Regions from separate parts of the Homo sapiens genome. Here region 1 is linked to region 2. Evidence: fine-mapped expression QTL. Tissue or cell type: monocytes after Pam3CSK4. Region 2 holds a variant in brackets; the other region holds the start of a gene. All regions are shown on one strand. Distances are between the middles of the regions.

Region 1 (9,096 bases), 20 kb before region 2:
CAAACCCTAACCTCAGGTGATCTGCCTGCCTTGTCCTTCCAAAGTGCTGGGATTACAGGCGTGCGCCACTGCAACAGCCCAGAATAATTTTTTTCTTTAACAATGCCTTCAAACAGTTGTTTACACACACACACACACACACACACACACACACACACTCCAGCTTGTATAGTTGTTTTTGGTGGGAGGGTTAGACAAGTTGGTACATTATGGCTGAAACTGGAAGTCTACTTACTTCTATAACAAACATGTATTATTTTAAACATTTCCTTTAAAACAATAATAACATGTTTAACGAGCTCATCTGGAACCAGTCTTCCCTGAAGGTTATTATTTTGAAAGTTTTAATGTCCTGTATAGATAATTGAATTGTCCAGGTTTTCTAGACGAGTACATTCCTTTGATATTTTCAAAGCCACTAATAGAATTACTCATATTTTTAAACTCCACAATTATGTTTATATATCCTTTCTTATGTCCAATTCTATGTTTTTTAATCTCTTTCCTTTTAAACTAGCTAGTATAGTATACTATAGAGTGTGATCTATGAAAGGCCTGCATTAGAATACCTGGGATGACACTTAAAAGTAGTAAGTGAATTAATTTTCTGAATCATCAATGGATACTGAAATCAGTAGGTGAAAGCTTTTTGGGGAAACAGACTGGTCAAACAGTCTCAGAGCATCACCCTCATGGATTACTTATTACATAAGAATCATACACCTTCATAATGGAGGGATCTGACAGTCACAGCCTCACCAGGTCATCAAGCTTAGCATCACCAACATACGCTTTCTGAAGTGAGGCAATGAAGTACTTAACATCACCAGCATATTCTTGCCTAAAATGTTTAACCTGGAATCTAACCATGAATCATACAGAATCCACCAGACAAATCCAGATTGTGGAGCATTATACTCCACAATTCCCCGGACCTTCAAAGAAGTCAACACAGTCAATAATATGTGAACATTGATTTGATCCTGGATTGGAAAAAAAGTCATCTGTGAAAGATATTTTTGGCCAGGCACAGTGGCTCATGCCTGTAATCCCAGCACTTTGGGAGGCCAAGGTGGGCAGATCATAAGGTCAGTAGATTGAGACCATCCTGGCTAACACGGTGAAACCCCGTCTCTACTAATGACAGGTGAAGCCAACTGGACTTCTGGGTAGGGTGAGGACTTGAAGAACTTTTCTGTCTTACAAGTGGTTTGTAAAATGTGCCAGTCAGTGCTCTGTAAAAACACACCAATCAGCACTCTGTGGCTAGCTAGAGGTTTGTAAAATGGACCAATCAGCACTCTGTAAAGTGGACCAATCAGCACTCTGTAAAATGGACCAATCAGCATTCCGTAAAATGGACCAATCAGCACCCTGTAAAATAGACCAATCAGCACTCTGTAAAGTGCACCAATCAGCATTCTGTAAAATGGACCAATCAGCAGGACATGGGCGGGGACAAATAAGGAAGTAAAAGCTGACTCCACCCCCCCCACCCCCGCCGGCCCCTCCCCTCCTGCCCCCACGCCCAGAGACTGCAACCACCCGTTGGGGTTCCTTTCCATGACATAAGGGCTTTGTTCTTTTGCTCTTCAGAAGAAGTCTTTGGGTCCCTGCCATCTTAAGAGCTATAAAACTCATCAGGAAGGTCCACAGCTCCATTCTTGAAGTCAGCAAGACCACGAACCCACCAGAAGGAACGAACTCTGGACACACTAAAAATACAAAAAAAAAAAAAAATCAGCAGGCTTGGTGGCAGGTGCCTGTAGTCCCAGCTACTCGGGAGGCTGAGACAGGAGAATGGCGTGAACGTGGGAGGCAGAGCTTGCAGTGAGCGGAGATCATGCCACTGCCCTCCAGCCTGGGCAACAGAGCAAGACTCCGTCTCAAAAAAAAATTTTTTTAGAGACAAGTGGAGAAACAAATATTAACTGTACATTAAATATTATACATAGGACCAGGCCTGGTGGCTCATGCCTGTAATCCCAGCACTTTGGGAGGCCGAGGCGGGTAGATCACGAGGTCAGGACTTGGAGAGGAGCCTGGCCAATATGGTGAAACCCCGTCTCTACTAAAAATACAAATAATTAGCTGGATGTGGTGACACGCACCTGTAACCCCAGCTACTCGGGAGGCTGAGGAGGAGAATCGCTTGAGCCCGGAAGGCAGACTTCATGCCATTGCACTCCAGCTTTGGCAACAGAGCGAGACTCCGTCTCAAAAAAAAAAAAATCATATATAGATGATTTGATGATATGGTTAATTTTGTTAGGTGTGATAATGGTATCATTAGTAGCATGATGTCCCTTTGTCTTTAGGAATTGCCGGCTGGCAATGGGGAAGGGGTTGTGCATCCACTATTTCAGCCCCTACTACTTTAAGTCTCTTCCCAAGCACGTTCCTCTCCCAAAGAAGTTACCATTCTAAATGCCTAACAGCTGGAAGTCCCCTCTGGTGGTTTCACAAGTGGAGTGATTTTACAGGAGAAACCCAGGTTTGGGGTTTACTATTTACTTGACGGCATTTGTAATCTGTAAGGCTCTTCCTGCAAAGAACAGGTGTTTCCAACTATACGTGCCTGGTCAAGGACTATTTCTTGGGTTTTCTACGTTCTGCTTTTGACAGCTGACTTAACTCAGGGCCTGCCTCACTGAAGGGAGAAAAAGGAAGGCCTCGGTCCCCCAATCATGATGACCGGGTTGTAAATACTGCCTGGGAAGGGATAATACAGCCTTTTCCATTGTGTGTGTGTTTTAGTTTTTAATTTTTTAAATTTCAAGCTTAGGCAGTGGTTCAGTGCAAGGACTGAAAAGCGCTACAAGAGAAGGTGGGCAAGCACGAGGGGTTTCAAATACAGGGGTGGAAGCAGTAGAAGGAAATGTCTCTTAGGCCCAGAGGACGGAACCAAAGGGTCAATTAGAAGGGAAAGGGACCTGCGGACCTGGGGAGAGGTCACTGGGGTTCTAAGCCTTCCACCTCTGCTTCCGGAATTTCCACGGGTTTCGCGGCCTTCTGGAGCGGCGACTTGGCCACGCTTGGGGTACAGGGTTGTGGGAAGTCATGTCATCCCCTCCCTCACGTGTTCCCTTGGCCATACTTTCCTGCCCCTCCACTTCCAGGCAAAACACTCCTCGGGACAGGCCTTGGGACATGTCCCAGATACACAATGGGGGCGCTGGACTTGGTGATAAGGGGCCTGCAGGAAGAAAAAGGCAGCCGTGAGAGCCGCCTGCAGATCCACGATGCATCTTAAAATTACAAATTCTCAGGCCCTACCCCAGACCTACTGAGTCAGAATACCCAGGGCACTGAGCCAGGGGGTGGGTGCCCGTAGGCCCGGCAGCACCCAGCCTGCAGAAGCTCCACCTCCGGGAGCGCTGAGCTAGGACCAGCTCCCCACGCCCCTGCCCTGGGGCTGCCGGGAGTCCAGTCCTGTTACACCTCCCGCGGCCGCGCACAGCGGCAACCCGGGCGTGCGGGGGCGCGCGCGGTCAGGGAGGGGCCTGCGGAGGCGCGAGGCCCCCGGAAGCGCCTTTCCCGGAAGGCAGGGAGGCAGCGCCGGCCTCCGGAGGCGGCCTGGGCGATGGCGGCGGAGTTTTGTCCATAACGTGGGCAACCGCGCAGCTGGAGGATGGCCTCACTCGGGCCTGCCGCAGCTGGGGAGCAGGCGTCGGGGGCTGAGGCGGAGCCGGGCCCCGCGGGGCCGCCGCCGCCGCCCTCACCGTCCTCTCTGGGGCCCCTGCTCCCCCTGCAGCGGGAACCTCTCTACAACTGGCAGGCGACCAAGGCGTCGCTGAAGGAGCGCTTCGCCTTCCTCTTCAACTCGGAGCTGCTGAGCGATGTGCGCTTCGTACTGGGCAAGGGTCGCGGCGCCGCCGCCGCTGGGGGCCCGCAGCGCATCCCCGCCCACCGCTTCGTGCTGGCGGCCGGCAGCGCCGTCTTTGACGCCATGTTCAACGGCGGCATGGCCACCACGTCGGCCGAGATCGAGCTGCCGGACGTGGAGCCCGCAGCCTTCCTGGCGCTGCTGAGGTGAGCGGCAGCGCGGGCCGGGCCGGGCCGGGCCGGGCCGGGCCGGGCCGGGCTGGGAGATCCCCGGGGCCCGGCCTACCCGGACTCCCGGATGACCTTGGGCTGGGCTCTTCTGACCCGCCCGGGGCCTCAGTTTCCTCCCGAGCCGTTGATGCTCCGGAGGGTCGAAATCGAAATCTGTGAACCAGGACGGCTCAGTCGCCAACTAAACGTTAGTGTCTTCATTAGGCAAGCGTGCGTTTTACCATTGAAAGGCGTTTCGCATTCCAATTATGGATTGTCGCTCAGACTTCAGAATTAGACAAGTGGCAAGGATAGAGGGGCAGATCAGGTTGTCCTGATTGCCCATTTGCGAAGTTTTATGTTTTTGTTTGGGGGAAGAGAGTAGTTGAAAAATCTTGCAGGACTGATGTTTTGGGGTTATTGTCACCCCCTTCCCCCCGCTTTTTTTGAGACAAGGTCTTGCTCTGTTGCCCAGGCTGGAATGCTGTAGCGCGATCATGGCTCACTGCAGCCTCGACCTCTCCGGGCTCAGGTGATGCTCCGACCTCAGCCTCCCGAGTATTTGGGACTACAGGCACGCGCCACCACGCCCGGCTAATTTTTTTTATTTTTATTTTTGGTAGAGAGAGGGTTTCACTATGTTGCCCAGGCTGGTCTCGGACTCCTGGGGTCAAGCGATCCGTCCACCTCGGCCTCCCAAAGTGCTGGGATTACAGGCGTGAACCACCGCGCCTGGCCACTTTTTTGTTTTTGTTTTTGTTTTTCATTAACGTATTAGTTGTCAAGACCCAGGAAAGTAAATACGAAAACAGACAAGTGAGGCTTTACCTGCTTTGTGTTTCTACACACAAGGTCACATTTGCTTATAAATGAATCCCTCCCTTGATGTTAGAATTTGCTTGTTGGTTATTTGAGGATAGTAGATTGACATCTAATGAAAAGGTGATTGTTTGGCATTACTAGCTTTTAATCACAGCCATCCTGTTAGGGAGGCGTAAGAATTGTTTACCCCAATTTCACAAATGGGACTGAGGCCCAGAAGAGTCAAGTATCTTGCCCAAGGTAACAAACAGCTAACTCACACTGAAGACCATGTCTGTTTCATTATACTAAGATGGTTTTAAATAGCTGCCTGAGTAGAACGTGTTGTTATTAAAATGGCAGAGTCTTGGGTAGTACTGAAGCAAAAACAGGCAGGTCAGTGGGACAGAATTAGATACAAAGGTTCACAGTTGAATCAGAAAGATGAACAAGAAAATGAATGTAAAGTTCACACAACTAGAAACAAATAATAAGATTCCATTGACGAATGGATAAAGGACAGGATAGATAACTTAGAGAAAGAAAAAATACAACTAATTAACGAATGTTTTACCTGGCTGGTAATTAGGAAGTGCAAATTAAAAGACAGTGGTATTTTTTCCTTCCATTAATCCCACCAAAAAATTTAAAGGTAACATCTGAACAGCATTTTCTGACAAAGATGGTGGTAAAAACCCTTTTGGAAAACAGTTTGGTGCTATAGATTTTCTTTCCACACGTAAGAAGCATTCAAGTATTGCAAATTGCATACAAAAATATTTACAGCTTTATTTATAGTAGTGAGGAAGTAGTCAGCTGTAGGGAATGGTTAAACAGTGGTAGGTTCACTTGATGAGATATAATGCAGTCACTAAATATGACGGATAGCACTTGAAACTGCACCATGGTTACAACGTGAAAAGACATGGAACAAACATATACCTAGAGACCGGGATAAAAGGAAACATACCAAAATGCTAAGCAAAGTCACCTGGAGTAGTGAGATGAAAGTACCTTTTTTTCTTCTTTATTCTTTGTTTCTGATATTTTCTGTAATTTAGTTCAGTTACATTTATAAAGGGGGGGGACCTCAAAAGCTAAAATCCAGGTCATTTTAGTTTAAAGTTCACCAGGAGGATTGGGTATAGTTCATTTGGATTTTCTAGACTAGAAGTAGTTTTCAAAATGATCTGTGGGCCGTCTGCATTATAATCTTCTGGGGTGCTTATGAAATGTGTAGATCTCATCCTCATTATATACCGTAATATTTGGAGGTGAGACCTTGGTAGCATTTTTAACACTCTCCCTAAGTGATACTTATACAAACTAAATTTAAGAACCACAAATCTAAAACTATTTTGGGGCAATTTTTTACTTTGAAAAAATATTGAGATTACTAGGATAAGAATGTAGAGGAAAAATACATATTTTAATATTTTCACCGAAGCTGCTAATTAGTGCTTTCCCATCAATAGAAAGTAAGTTAATTTTAGAGTGTTTGAAATGTAGGACAGTGCAATTTTTTTTTTCACATTGTAAAACATTTTTTACATTTTTAAACTTTTTTTTCATTTTTACATTTTCAGTGTGTTTTATTTTCCTAGCATTGTATTTATCCTTCAGGTTCTGGTCATTGTTCTATTTTGAAATTGATATCTGGACTGATTTCTAAATTTAATTTTGGCTGGCTGTGTAACGTAGATGTTGTTGTTAGCTAATACGTGACAAAAAGATGCCTGATAGTACTTGCTAAGTTGGAAGAGCAGGTTAGTTTGGGCATACTTGTAAACATCCTGAATTAGTTAACATTACTTACAGGCTCATGAACTTAAGTTTGAAGCCCTTAAAGAAACTGTGCACTTTGAACTGCCTGACCTTTAAATGATGTTCTTCAGTTGTTTGACAAATACTATATGCCTCCCTTTTGGGGCGCTTGTGAAACAGCGAATGGCTGTTGTAGGTGTTTGGGACACAGCAATAAACAAGAAAAAGTCCTTGCCCTCATGAAGCACATAATCTAGTAAAGGGAAACTAAAGATACAATGTCAAGTACTGATGAATGTTTTGAAGAAAAATAATCAAGTTATGAGAGAAGGAACATTCTCAGCAAGGGAACGCATTGTTTTCGGCACTAAGTATCTCCTGTTGGAGGAACACAAGAGTGAACCAGTGTGCCTTAAGCACAGTAGAGGGAAGTGGTAGAAAATGAGGTCAAAAAGATAGGCCAGACAGGATGGTGCAGGGCTTTAGAGACTGAGCGAAGACTTTTTCAGCTGGTATTTGATGGAAAGCCTTTGGAGAGTTTTGAATGAGATTGGGGAGGCGGAGGTGGTGGCAGGAGGTTGTGATCTGATTTACATTTTAAAAAAACAAACTCTTTCTGGCAGTGGTTGGAGTAAAATAGGCAGCAAGGTGATAGATGAAGAGGCTTTTGCAGTAGTCCAGGCAAGAGGCGATGGTGAATTGTACCTTGTACCAGGGAGGTAGCAAAGGACATGATGAGACATGGTCAAATTCTGGATATATTTTTGAAGGTACAACCAAGAGGACTTCCAAGACATCCAAGTAGTGTCATAGAGTAGACAGAAATATGAATTTGGAGGTGAGGGAACAGCTTGCTGAACATAAATTTGCAAGTTAAGAGTGAATGGTATTTAAATCGAGAGATCAAGTGAGATTACCTAGGAAGGCATGTAGACTGTGAAGAGAGGTACAAGGATGAGCTCTGGAATCTTCAAATATGTAGAGATGTAGCAGAGAAAAAGCATAAAATGAAACTGAGAAGCAGCTGTCAGTGGAATTAGAAGAGAAAGAAGGAGCATTATATTCTGAAAGTCAAGTCAAAACATTTCAAGAAAGAAGAAGTGGGAAATGTCAACTATGGAAAGTGGAAAGTGGTCAGTTATGCTCAATGCTATTGAGAGTCAGGTATAATGAAGACTTTGAGTTGATTTTTAATCTTGACAAGGTGGAAGCTATCGATAACCCTGCCAAGAGTGATTTCAGCTGATTAGAGTAGGTTAGGCAGAAAATGGGAAGTGAGGAGCTGGAGACAGTATAAACAGTCCTCTCAGGAGTTTTGTTGCAAAGGGGAACAGAGAATGACGTGATGGCTGGAAGGGGCACGAGGTAAGTGTTCTTCAGTATTCAGTCCTCAGCTCTCATCCTTTCTCCCATCAACCAAAGTGAGAGCTTTACGCACTCATTCCCCCACATGTGTCTCCAAAGCTCTACTTAGCTCCAGACCCTCATTTCCAACTGGACCATCGTGAAGTAATGTTTTATACCCATGCAGATGGACATGTTATTAATGAAAATATCTGACATTTAATGAGTACTTTTACTGTGTGCCATAGATTGTTCCTAAGCCCCTTTGTGATCTCACTTAAATTTCAGGAAAATCCTTTGAGACAGGCATACTTCTTATCCCCCTGCAATAGCTTTTGCCATATTAATGCTATAAATAAAGCAACCCCCAAAAAGCAATAATTTATTCTTGCTTATGATTCTGTAGGTCAGCTAGGAAATGACTTCATGGGCCTAGCTCCAAATTGTAGTTTCGTTTCACTCCATTCTACACATTTCTTGTCCATTTTAGACCATTCCTGAAAATTTTACCTGCCTCTCCATTTTTTTCTGCATTGCTTCAACCAAACTACTGCGTTTAGACTTAACTCTCTCCATTCATCCTGTTAACAGTGATCTCTCCAATATTGGTATATGGTCATATAATTCCCCTGAATCTTTTAATGACTTCTTTTTACCTACAGGATGTTTAAACACTTTAGCAGGTACATGAAACCTTTGTGATTTGATCTCTCTTTCTTCATCTCCTCTCCATCCACTCAGTGTTTCAACCCTAATTACTAATGGCCTTTTTCTTGTTTTAGTGCCTGCTTCTAAGGCCTCCTTACCTTTGTACTCCTCAGTCTTTCTGCCAGGGCTCCACACTTAATTACTACTCTTCAGATAATCTTCAGGCTTTACTTCCTCTGTAAAAATTCCACCCACAGGCAAAATTGCACACTGGCTCATCTAATTAATCTCTCACAGCATGTTTTGGTTATCTGTTGCTGTGGAACAAATCACTGGAATGCGTAGTGACTTAAACAACTTTTATTATCTTTTACAGTTGTGTGGGTTGACTGGAATCACTTAGGTGGTTTGTCGTCTATGTAGCTGTAGTCAGATAGCAGGTGGGGTTGGACTCATCTGGAGGTTTAACTCACAGTCTGGGATGGCTGAGCCTTAAGTCTCAGG
Region 2 (10,732 bases):
AGGCCATGATGTGTGCAACTTACTCTCAAATAGTTTAGTCTCTCCTCCCAGATAGATGTGTGTGTGTGTGTGTGTGTGTGTGTATATATATGGAAAAAAAATTAATAAATGAGGCAAAATGTTAAATAATATTTAGATAAATCTGGATAAAGGGTATATGGGTTTTCATTGCACTATCTTTTCAACTTTTCTATAAATTTGAAATTCCAAAGTATTTGTGTGTCTAAACAAAAAAGGTGCAGTTAAAAAAAAATAAGGAAATTCCAAATGAAAAATAGTTTGAGGGAAAATTGCATGAGATAGATTTAATATTTATTAATACAAATTTTTTATTTAGTGCTAAAATTTATTTAAAATTTGACAAAGCAAATTATTGTAAACAGGCTCAGTGTATAATCTAGGAAGTGCATTTTCAAACATTCGAGTATTCTATACATATTTTATGTTATATGTAAATGTTTTAAACTTAAAATATATATATATATAATTTTTAAAATATACTTAAATTTAAAAAATTTAAAGCCAGTGTGTTTAATGTTTTCTTTTCTCCCCCATAAAACACATGATAATTGTTTAGATATTTATCAGTTGTTCAGTAGTATCTGAATTATTGAATACTTTAAAATGAATTTTACTTTAAAATTAAATGAAGAGTCATCATCATGCCAAATAATTAGTGTCATTTATGATATGGTTAACTAATTGGCAGTATTCTCAGAAAGTTTCTGCCCAAGCCAACATAATACCTTTGGGCATTTAGTGTTTGCCCATCCTCTAAAATGTGAAGAGAACTAACCCCAGGCCAGAATGAAAGGTTGGTCATTGGCATGCCTATCATCATACCTCCTTTTTCAGTGTTTCAGCTTTTTAAAAATCTTGCTTGAGTTTAACTTGGACTCCCCCTGCTTATAAACTGTTTTTTTTTTTTTTGTGGGGGAGGGTTATAACATATGTATTGATAAAGCACATATTGTAAGCTTGACTTCTAACATCTTAAAGCCAAAATTAGTTCTTCTGGAATTCTACAGTACATATTCTTGCTCATTATATATTCTGGCTTTTTTGCTCATCATTAGGTTTGTGTGGTTCATTTATATTGGTTTGTGTAGTTGTAGATTGTTCATTCTCATTGTTGTATAATATTCCGTCATGTGAATTTTATGTATTTGTTCTTGTGTTGTTAGACCTAATTTTGCTTAGGTTTCCAGAGCTGTCATGCTCTAAAATTCTAGTACCCTATTCTCTCCTCAAAATCAAAACAGGCAATGGAAGAGAAAATCTGATATTTGCACTGTTGTGCTTGACAATTGATATTATAATTAGTGAAAAGACTATAAGATTTAAGTACTAGCTGTGCAACATACTTAACTAGATGATCTTAGGCAAGTCACTGTACCTCTCCAAACCTCTGAAAATGGGATAATAATGTAAGCCTTATCTAACATAAAGGGTTCATTAAGGATCAGAATAAGTAATGTATAAGAATATAGGCTGTACACACACACACACACACACACACACACACACACAAGCACATAAAAATAACAGGATTGGTATTGGTAATGTCAATTTGTTCTTAGCAGGGCATTTGTATTTTTAGCTTTTCATTTCTGATTGTAGAATGAAAAGTTTTAAGAATATGTAGACATTATTGCGTGTATTTTAAGTAGATATTTTTACATAATTAGCAATTATAACTGTTGACAATATTAATTTCAAATATGTACAGTCTGAAGGTAAAATAACTATGAAAGTTAAATAACTATCTCTTTATATGTTTAGGCTCGATTATTTGATGAACCTCAGCTTGCTAGTCTTTGTCTAGATACAATAGACAAAAGCACAATGGATGCAATAAGTGCAGAAGGGTTTACTGATATTGATATAGGTAAGTTCGCTATGAAGTAAATTGTTACATTTTAAGTACAGTTAATGCCTTACTTGTCAGCCTTGTTGGAGAAGGGGCTATTTTTAAATCAGTGGCTTTCCCAAATGATTGAAGTCTCTCTAAGAGTTTTGCTTTTTTTTGTTTTGGTGAAAATATTTCTAAAAGTCTTAACTAGCTCATTGCCTGTTAAAAGATTTCAAATCAAATAAATATTCATTGAATGCCCATCATATGCATGGCATTATTCTAGGGTCCATAGGAAATATAAAAAATAGTAAGAGATGAGTTGTCTTGTTAAGGAAACGTCTAATTGGAGAATCAAAGAACAAATATTTGAAAATTAAGATTTAAAACGCTAATAGAAGAGAGGGCATTAATACCTGGGTGATGAAATAGTCGGTACAGCAAACCCCGATGACACAAGTTTACCTCTGTGACAAACCTGCACATGTACCCCTGAACTTAAAATAAAAATTAAAAAAAAAGAGAGGACATATGGTAAAATGTGATTTCTATCTTTTCTAAATTAGATATGTAGAAAGTAATTACTATGCAAATCCGGAAAATGGTGCGATTACTTCAAATTGCAGTAGTGTTAGGAAAATTTTGACAGAGGAGGTTCTGATATGAGCCTTAAAGAATGGATAGCACAGTAGGTCCTTGAATAATGTCGTTTCATTATAATGTTGATAAGAAAAAAATGGACGCCTGGCGGGGGCCACGATCTGTAGGGTTTACATGTTCTCCTGTATCTTCGTGGTTTTCTCCAGGCACTCTAGTTTCCTCTCACATCCCAAAGATGTGCATTTAGGTTCTTTGGTGTGTCGAAATGGCCTCAGTCTGAATGAGAGTGTGTGTGAGTGTGCCCTGTGATGAAATGATGTACTGTGTGGGATTGGTTCCTGCCTATACCAAGCCACTGGGATAAGCTCTGGCCACCTGAGACTCTGAACTGGAATAAGTGGATTGGAAAATGATTTATCAAGTAAAAATTTGTAAAGTATATGATAATCATACAAATGTTTGATGATAAATGACATAGTATGAAAGCGCTCGGCAAGTCCACTATGTTATTTGCTTTTGAACTGCGTTGTGTGGGAGGTCCTCCTCAAAATTTTCACTTTGTAAACGTTTATTCCTGGATTTAACCCACCACCACTATGACCACTGTCACTCACTGATTCACCAAAAATTGGGTAAATGATTCTCTTTCTTGTCTGTATTAATCTTTCTTAAATGTATGTATAGCTCACATTTATTTCACTGTTCAATTTAGAAGTGCTTTGAGTCTTTATTTAGAAGCTTGGTGGTATTTTTGTGACCAGAAATATGCCATAGGAACTTAACTCTTGTTTCTATCAGTTAGCTCATGGTAAAATTGCTTTCGTTAGACACTTTCATTTGAAGTCACAGTTTCCAAGAACCCATACGTTGAGGACTTACTGTGTTTGGATAGTGGAGAGGGGAGGGCATTAGCGGCAAGTGGAACCTCAGGAAGAAGTGTATAAGAGGAAGGAGGTGCAAAGCAGGTTAAAGCCAGGTGATAGAGGACCATCTAATGATAGGCTAACAATGTACCTTTTGTCTTGTAGGAGAGTAGAGAGATCTAATCCAGGCCCGTGGCTTTAAATACTATCTTTATGATGATAACCCAAAATACGTATCTTCAGTCCCTGTCGTCTTCTGGGCTACAAACTCATATACCCAACTGTCTACTTGACATTCTCATTTGGAGATTTTATAGGCATTTGAAACAGAACAGCTAAAGGAGAACCATTGATTCCTCTCGCTGTCTGTGAGGACTCTTCTGTTCCTTTCCAACTGTTTTCAGTCTTCCTTAACAACACCACCATGAACCTGATTGCTTGGGCTAAAAACTCCTGTTATTCTTGGTTATTCTTTCTCTCATACCCCACATGCAGTCTTATCAGCAGGTGCTCATGGCTCTACTTTGAATATGTATCCTGAATCTGACCACTACTTAACCATATCCGTGGCTACCACCTAGTCTAAGCCACCATTCTCTTTCACCTGGATAATTGCAGTGGTCTCTTGTAGTCTCTCCTTTCATGCAGTCTTGCTCCCATACACTCCATTCTCTACATGGCAGCCAGAATGATCTTTATAAATAAAAAATCAGCCCATATAACTTCCTTGCTTCCAGTGTCTTCCCACATCCATTTGCATAAAATTTAAATTCCTTATAAAAGCTCACAGTAATACAAGGCCTGTGGAGTCAGGCCTTGTATTTGTCAGGCTGTGGTAAGAAATAGACCCAAAAATGCAGACTGGCTCAAACACAGAAGTTTATTTCACGCTCATATAACAGACCAAGGGAGTATTATAGTCAATAGGTAGTTCGTTCTTGTTGTTCTGTCATGCCCTAGAGCCTAGCTATTATCTGTGTTTTGCTGGCAGATGGGAGAAAGTGTGGATGGGGAAAATACCCACAGATTAAAAGCATTGACCCTGATATAGCACCTACATTTTGGCTGTTATTTTATTGGTCCCATTCAGTTGCAAGATCTCACCTAACTTTGGAGAAGCCAGGAGATGCAGACTAGTCACATCCCAGGAAGAAGAGAAAACATCTTTGGTAAATAGGTAGAAGCCACTACCTACATCTGACTTTGTCTCCTACCATTCTCCCCCTAATTCAATTCCCATATGCGCTGGCCAGGATTATTTATATTCCATTCTTTTGTATTTGCTATTCCTTCTGATTAGGATCCTTCTTCCCCTGAATCTTGGCATCTCAGATTAAAGAAGACCTGAGACTTCAGACCTACTTAATTAGATACCGTGTTCCCCTAAGCAATCCCTGTTCCATTACTCTTGCTCTGATTTATTTTCCTTGTAATACACATTGCTCTCTGAAAGTCTTATCTAGGTATTTGTCTCTGTATATATATGTTGATTGTTTACTTTTCTCTCCTAAATTGTAAACTCCTTGAAGGCAGGGACTTTGTCTCGTGTACAACTCTATCACTAGCACCAAAGACAGAAGAATATAGTACATGTTCAGCTGATATTTGTTGATTAACTGGACTGACTGGCTGTGTCTAGAATAATGCTTTTTCTTCCCATCTTGGCTGGCTCTCACATAGTCTTAAGATCTTGGCTAAAATAACACTTCCATATGACTCATTTTTTGGGAGCTGATACCCCACCCTCGTCCATGATACTTGTTATATTCCTCTGTTCTAACATCCTGTTGTTAGTTGATGTATTGCACAGTACCTTGGGAACAAATAATACACTGCTTATAATATACTGAAGGACGGGGAGTAAATCAGATTCCTCCCCAGCACCTGCATGTGGTGTCTGTTGAGTACTGGATATTTGAGAGCCCTAAACACTGCCCAAGTTGTTAATGAAACATTGCTTAATCCTAAGATTTCCTCCCTGTTAGGGTAGCTGTCAGATGCTTCATTTGTTCTTCAGTGTGTTCTCATTTGAAGCATTACTGCCTGCATCTGGGTAACTTACACCTTATAAATTGCTCTTAAATTATGCATGCCGTTGGAGCCTGGGAATCTTGAAGTATGTGCCTTGTACAGGGTAGAAGCCAATAAATATTTGGTCATTTGATTTGACTCACAGTTGTTTATTTGAAAACTCAGTATTGTGTTAATATTTATGAAACAATCTGCTGTGTTTTTCTGATCTTTATTTGGTTCTCAGCTTTAACTTCGTACTTTAACACATCTGCCAGTAGAAGACCTATGTGTTTGTCTTTCTACCCCATAGACTAGTTTGTTTCAAATGTACTTGTTAAAAATTGGTAATTAATTAAAAAACATTTTTTATCAGTTATTATTATTATTTTTGTTTTTTTTGGTAGAGACGGGGTTTCGCCATGTTGCCTAGGTAGGTCTCGAACTCCTGTGCTCAAGCCATCTGCCCGCCTCAGCCTCCCAAAGTGCTGGGATTACAGGTGTGAACTATTATGCCTAGCCCCAAAAATTGGTAATTCAAGAGAAGACTGGGAGCTGAAAGAAAGGGCTGGCTTCAGGAGCTTTTTATAGCTGTCTTATATTCTCAGGATGTTTTTTCTCCTCCGGGATTTGAATATGTGTTCTGGAGGAAGAGATACTGTTTCTTACAGCCTTTTGCTAAAGGAAGAAGATAATTTATCATGTTGATAGAACAAAATGAATTTACACCAAGGGTAGTATGATGTGCTTTTTTTTTTAGTAATAAAGTTTATGTGTTTATCTCTGCGGAAGTTATTAGCATACCAAGTGGAGACATGTAGGTTCAAAGTCTTCTGGTTTTCCATCAAATGGTTGTGTCATATTGATTGCATTTAATTTACTTATGAAAGGGCTTCGTGGTGCCATAGTTTATACTCATCTGCTCAGCTACAATAAGAGATACTAAAGTTTGATTTTTAAAAAAAATTATGTGTAACCAGTTTATTTTTAACATGGTATTAAGCCTCTCCTGTGTTCTTGGGACTATGATACCTTTGCTAGGATATTACTTATGTTTGATATTAAGCAAATATTTGGCTCTTAGCATGTGTAGACCATTGCAGAAAAGTTTTT[T/G]TTTGTTTGTTTGTTTGTTTTTTTGAGGCAGAGTTTTGCTCTTGTCACCCAGGCTGGAGTGCAGTGGCGTGATCTTGACTCACTGCAGCCTCCGCCTCCCGGGTTCAAGCGATTCTCCTGACCCCAGCATCCCGAGTAGCTGGGATTACACAGGCACCTGCCACCACGCCCTGCTAACTTTTGTATTTTTTGTGGCGATGGGGTTTCATCCTGTTGGCCAGGGTGGTCTCGAACTCCTGACCTCAGGTGATCACTCTCCTCGGCCTCCCAAAGTGCTGGGATTACAAGAGTGAGCCACTGTGCCTGCCCATATTGTAGAATAGTATTTAAAGAAATGTTTATCTGATATGTATTTATGGATAATGTAATCATATTTAATGCTTTAATTGATTTCTGCTGTAACTATAGCATACTCATTTTTATTTAAATTTAATTTAAAGTATAACTATTAGATATTTCATAGAAGTGCCTGTTTTATCTAGGTTCTTTAGAGATTTTCCTATCCATCTAGAAGTGTCGTTTTTTAGGAACTGGGGTATTTATTATTTTTTTATTAGCACAAACACATTTATTTATTAACCAAAGGGATGATCCTAATTAATCCAAGACACTTTGAAATAGCTGCATGTGAAACGTTTGTGATAAAGATAATTGAACACAGTAATGAAAAAAAACACTATGGAGATTTGCTCATTGAACTGAGCTTGATCATTCTATTAGTTAACTCCTGTCCAAAGTGATGATGGAATTTTTATTCTACTTTTTCATAGATCCGAGTACAGGCGACATTGTTCATGACACAGTACACCACTAATTTCCCATCTTTCAGTTTTCTTGTTATTGTGTTTTCCTTCCCATCCCACTCCTGATGCTGAACCAATGCACCATCTGCAAAGCTGCACACAGTCTGAGTTTTTCTGCCATCAGCTGTGGTTTCTTCAAACTTCTCTCCCAGGGTACAAGAAAACTGTGTTTTCAAAGTGCTCTCGGTTTTTATGGTGAGGTTTTTGCCATCACAAGTGATGATACAATCTGGCTTGGCCATTGCGTCCATTTTTCGCAAAGCAGTTCCCACTCCTCCTCCTTCATGTATTCATCAAAGCGTTTGCTGTCCACCAGGCGCCATCTTCCTCCCAGCTGCTGAACTGTGGCCATGGTGGGCACGGGCGGGCGGGCATGCAGAGCAGGGTTGCCGTCGGCGTGGGCAGCTTGCTGTCGAACTGGGGTATTTATTTTGACCCTTTGAGAAATCTAAAATGTTTTATTTTACCTGCCTATATTAAACAATATGTACTGGATATAATTTAGGATTCTTGTGATTATTAATGCTCACTAAGTATCAGTTACATTATTATTGTACAGTGAAGCCCTCAGGTCTGTGAAGTGTTGTTTTTTTAAAAAACTCTATAAGACCCTTGATAGCTATTCTTTTCAAGTGCTTAACGTCTTCTTTTCACAAATTTCCTCTTTTCTCTATCCCTGTTAGATTGCAGTTTATCATTTCATTCTAGTATATTAGCCTCTAAAGCCCCTTTCTCTTCTGAACTTATTGCTTCTGGGCTGTTAGAACTTAAAAGTAACTGAGCTTATTTTAATTTTGCCTATCATAAGAGGAAAAGGGTTCTGAGTGAGGACCTGAGGTACAGGCATGACGTTTATACTTGGATGTCAAATAGGAATTTCAAACTTAGTATGTCTAAAATGAAACTTCAGCTCTTTCCCCACCCCAAACCTGCACCTCCTGTGGTCTTTCCCATCTTGGTTGATGCCACCCTCATCCCTCCAGTGCATAAGCTATATAAACCTTGCAGTTATTCTTGACTCCTCTCTTTAAATCACACCTCACATCCAATCTGTTAGGAAATCTAATTGAGTCTTCCTTCAGAATATGTTCCAAATATGATCAATTTTCACCACTTCCACTGCTACCCTCCTTGTCCAGGCCACCATCCCTGACCTGGATCGATGCAAGAGCCTCCAACTGATATTGTCTTCACTATAGCCTCTTCTCAACACAGAAGCCAGGGTGATCCTTTCAGAACATAAAATGTGACAACTCAGAATCCTCCAGGCATTCTCCATGTCACTTAGAGTAAAAGCCAAATGATCTACAGGGTGCTGCATGATTGCCCCCTCTCCCCACAGCCTCTGGCCTCCTTGCCTGCTACTCTTCCCTCCTGCTCACTCCACTCCACCACGTTGGCCTCCTTACCATTCCTCAGATATGCCAGGCACACTTTAATATGAGAGCCTTTGTACTTTTAGTCCTGGAATACTATTCCTCTAGGTATCTATTTGGCTTACTCCCCCACTTCCTTCATGTCTTGGCATAAGTGAAGCCTGCCTAAACCACCCGATTTTATTTTATTTTATTATTTTTTGGCACAGTCTCACTCTGTTGCCTGGGCTGGAGTACAATGGCATGATCATGGCTCACTGCAGCCTGCAACCTCCCAGGCTCGAGTGATCCTGCTGTCTCAGCCTCCTGAGTAGCTGAGACTACAAGTGCATGCCACCATGCCTGGCTAATTTTTAAAAACTTTTTTGTAGAGATGGGGTCTCACTATATTGCCCAGGCTGGCCTGAAACTCCTGGGCTCAAGCCATGCTCCTGTCTCAGCCTCTTAAATTGCTGGGACTACTGGCATGGGTCACCATGCCTGGCCCCTTCCTATTTTAAACTGCATTTCTGATTCTCCTTAACCTGACATATTTGCCCATGTATATCATCTAAGATACTCGAATTTACTTGTGTTTATTTAATCTGTTTCTCCTCATTAGAATGTAAGCTCCATGAGGGCAGGAATTTTTAACTTTTTGTTCAGTGATATATCAGTGCTGGCTGGGCGCGGTGGCTCACGCCTGTAATCCCAGCACTTTGGAAGGCCGAGGCAGGCAGATCACTTCAGGTCGGAAGTTTGAGACCAGGCTGGCCAACATGGTGAAACCCTGTCTCTACTAAAAATATAAAAATTAGCCAGGTGTGGTGGCCCGTGCCAGTAATCCAAGCTACCCAGGAGGCTGAGGCAGGAGAATTGCTTGAACCTAGGAGGCAGAGGTTGCATTGAGCCGAGATTGTGCCTCTGCACTCCAGCCTGAGCAACAGAATGAGACTCTATGACTCTATATCCAAAATATATACATACATATATATATATATATATATATATATATAAAATTGCCTAATAGTACCTGGCACGTAGTGCTTAATAATAAATATTTACTGAATGAACGAATGAATTATAATCTGTAGACTTTAAGAATTTATGTAATTGGAACCTTTTTCTGTGGCTTGTTAATCTTATTCTGGATAGTTGAGTTTACTTGATAAATGGCATAAATATATAAGGAGAGTACTGTATCTTAATATTGCATGTATGGTAAGTAATAAATTGATTGTTAAACTGATTTTTATGGAACACTTTGGAGTTTAAGTCCTTTAATTATTTAGTATTTTAAAGTATAAAGTCTGTAGTTTTAAGTGTCTAACCTATTTTTTGTTGAGATCTGAAAACTTAATATAAGTGTGTCTGTTGGTATTGCTTGGTTAGAGAGCTAAAATATTTCTAATTGGGTTTATTTTGTATTTTGCCTATAGATACACTCTGTGCAGTTTTAGAGAGAGACACACTCAGTATTCGAGAAAGTCGACTTTTTGGAGCTGTTGTACGCTGGGCAGAAGCAGAATGTCAGAGACAACAATTACCTGTGACTTTTGGGAATAAACAAAAAGTTCTAGGAAAAGCACTTTCCTTAATCCGGTTCCCACTGATGACAATTGAGGAATTTGCAGCAGGTAAGGGTATAAATTCACCAAAATCTATTTGAAACTGTTTTAATAGTCTGTCAGGGCTGGGCCTGGTGGCTCACACCTATAATCCCAGCACTTTCGAGAGGCCAAGGCAGGTGGATCACTTGAGGACAGGAGTTCGACACCAGCCTTGTCAACATGGTAAAACCCCGTCTCTACTAAAAGTACAAAAAATTAGGCATGGTGGTGGGCACCTGTAATCTCAGCTACTCAGGAGGCTGAGGCAGGAGAATCGCTTGAACCCAGGAGACGGAGGTTGCAGTGAGCCGAGATCATGCCGTTGCATTCCAGCCCGGGCGACAGAGCGAGATTCCACGAGACTCCATCTCAAAAAAAAAAAAAAATTCTATCAGTCTCCCTGCGCCAGAGAGGAAAAGAAGCTTTTATTCAGTACTAATCACATGACAAACATATATGCGAGTGTATGATTTTAAGCCCTTCAAAATTATATTATCCACATTGTATAGGTTAGAGAAGTAAAGTT

Which allele goes with the higher level. Alleles are on the strand shown, and positions count from the first base shown. SD is a standard deviation of normalised expression in the study named.
For the expression in monocytes after Pam3CSK4 of the gene that starts at base 3,531 in region 1, T is the low allele of the variant in region 2 and G is the other (large effect, 1.0 SD a copy in Quach 2016).

What was found. PIP is the estimated chance that this variant, and not a neighbour inherited with it, causes the effect.
Region 1: it holds the start of BTBD1, and the variant in region 2 is fine-mapped to the expression of BTBD1 in monocytes after Pam3CSK4 (Quach 2016, PIP 0.95).

What each region holds. Positions count from the first base shown.
Region 1 is chr15:83,061,687-83,070,782 of GRCh38, reverse strand. BTBD1 (BTB domain containing 1) reads left to right here and starts at 3,531. Exons shown (of 8, transcript NM_025238.4): 1 at 3,531-4,032. The coding sequence starts at 3,632. It overlaps MIR4515 (microRNA 4515), which reads right to left and starts at 3,448; the gene lies at 3,368-3,448. It overlaps LOC124903542 (a long non-coding RNA gene), which reads right to left. Exons shown (of 2, transcript XR_007064742.1): 2 at 8,938-9,096. RefSeq lists silencers at 1,398-1,447, 3,324-3,803, 4,044-4,213 and enhancers at 1,352-1,646, 3,084-3,133, 3,144-3,263.
Region 2 is chr15:83,041,229-83,051,960 of GRCh38, reverse strand. It overlaps BTBD1 (BTB domain containing 1), which reads left to right. Exons shown (of 8, transcript NM_025238.4): 3 at 1,783-1,888; 4 at 10,036-10,233. All of the region lies in intron 1 of LOC124903542 (a long non-coding RNA gene), which reads right to left. It also overlaps the pseudogene FABP5P8. Among named protein-coding and RNA genes, the nearest start is that of BTBD1, 21 kb to the left of the region's middle. The variant T/G (reference allele first, on the strand shown) is at 6,439.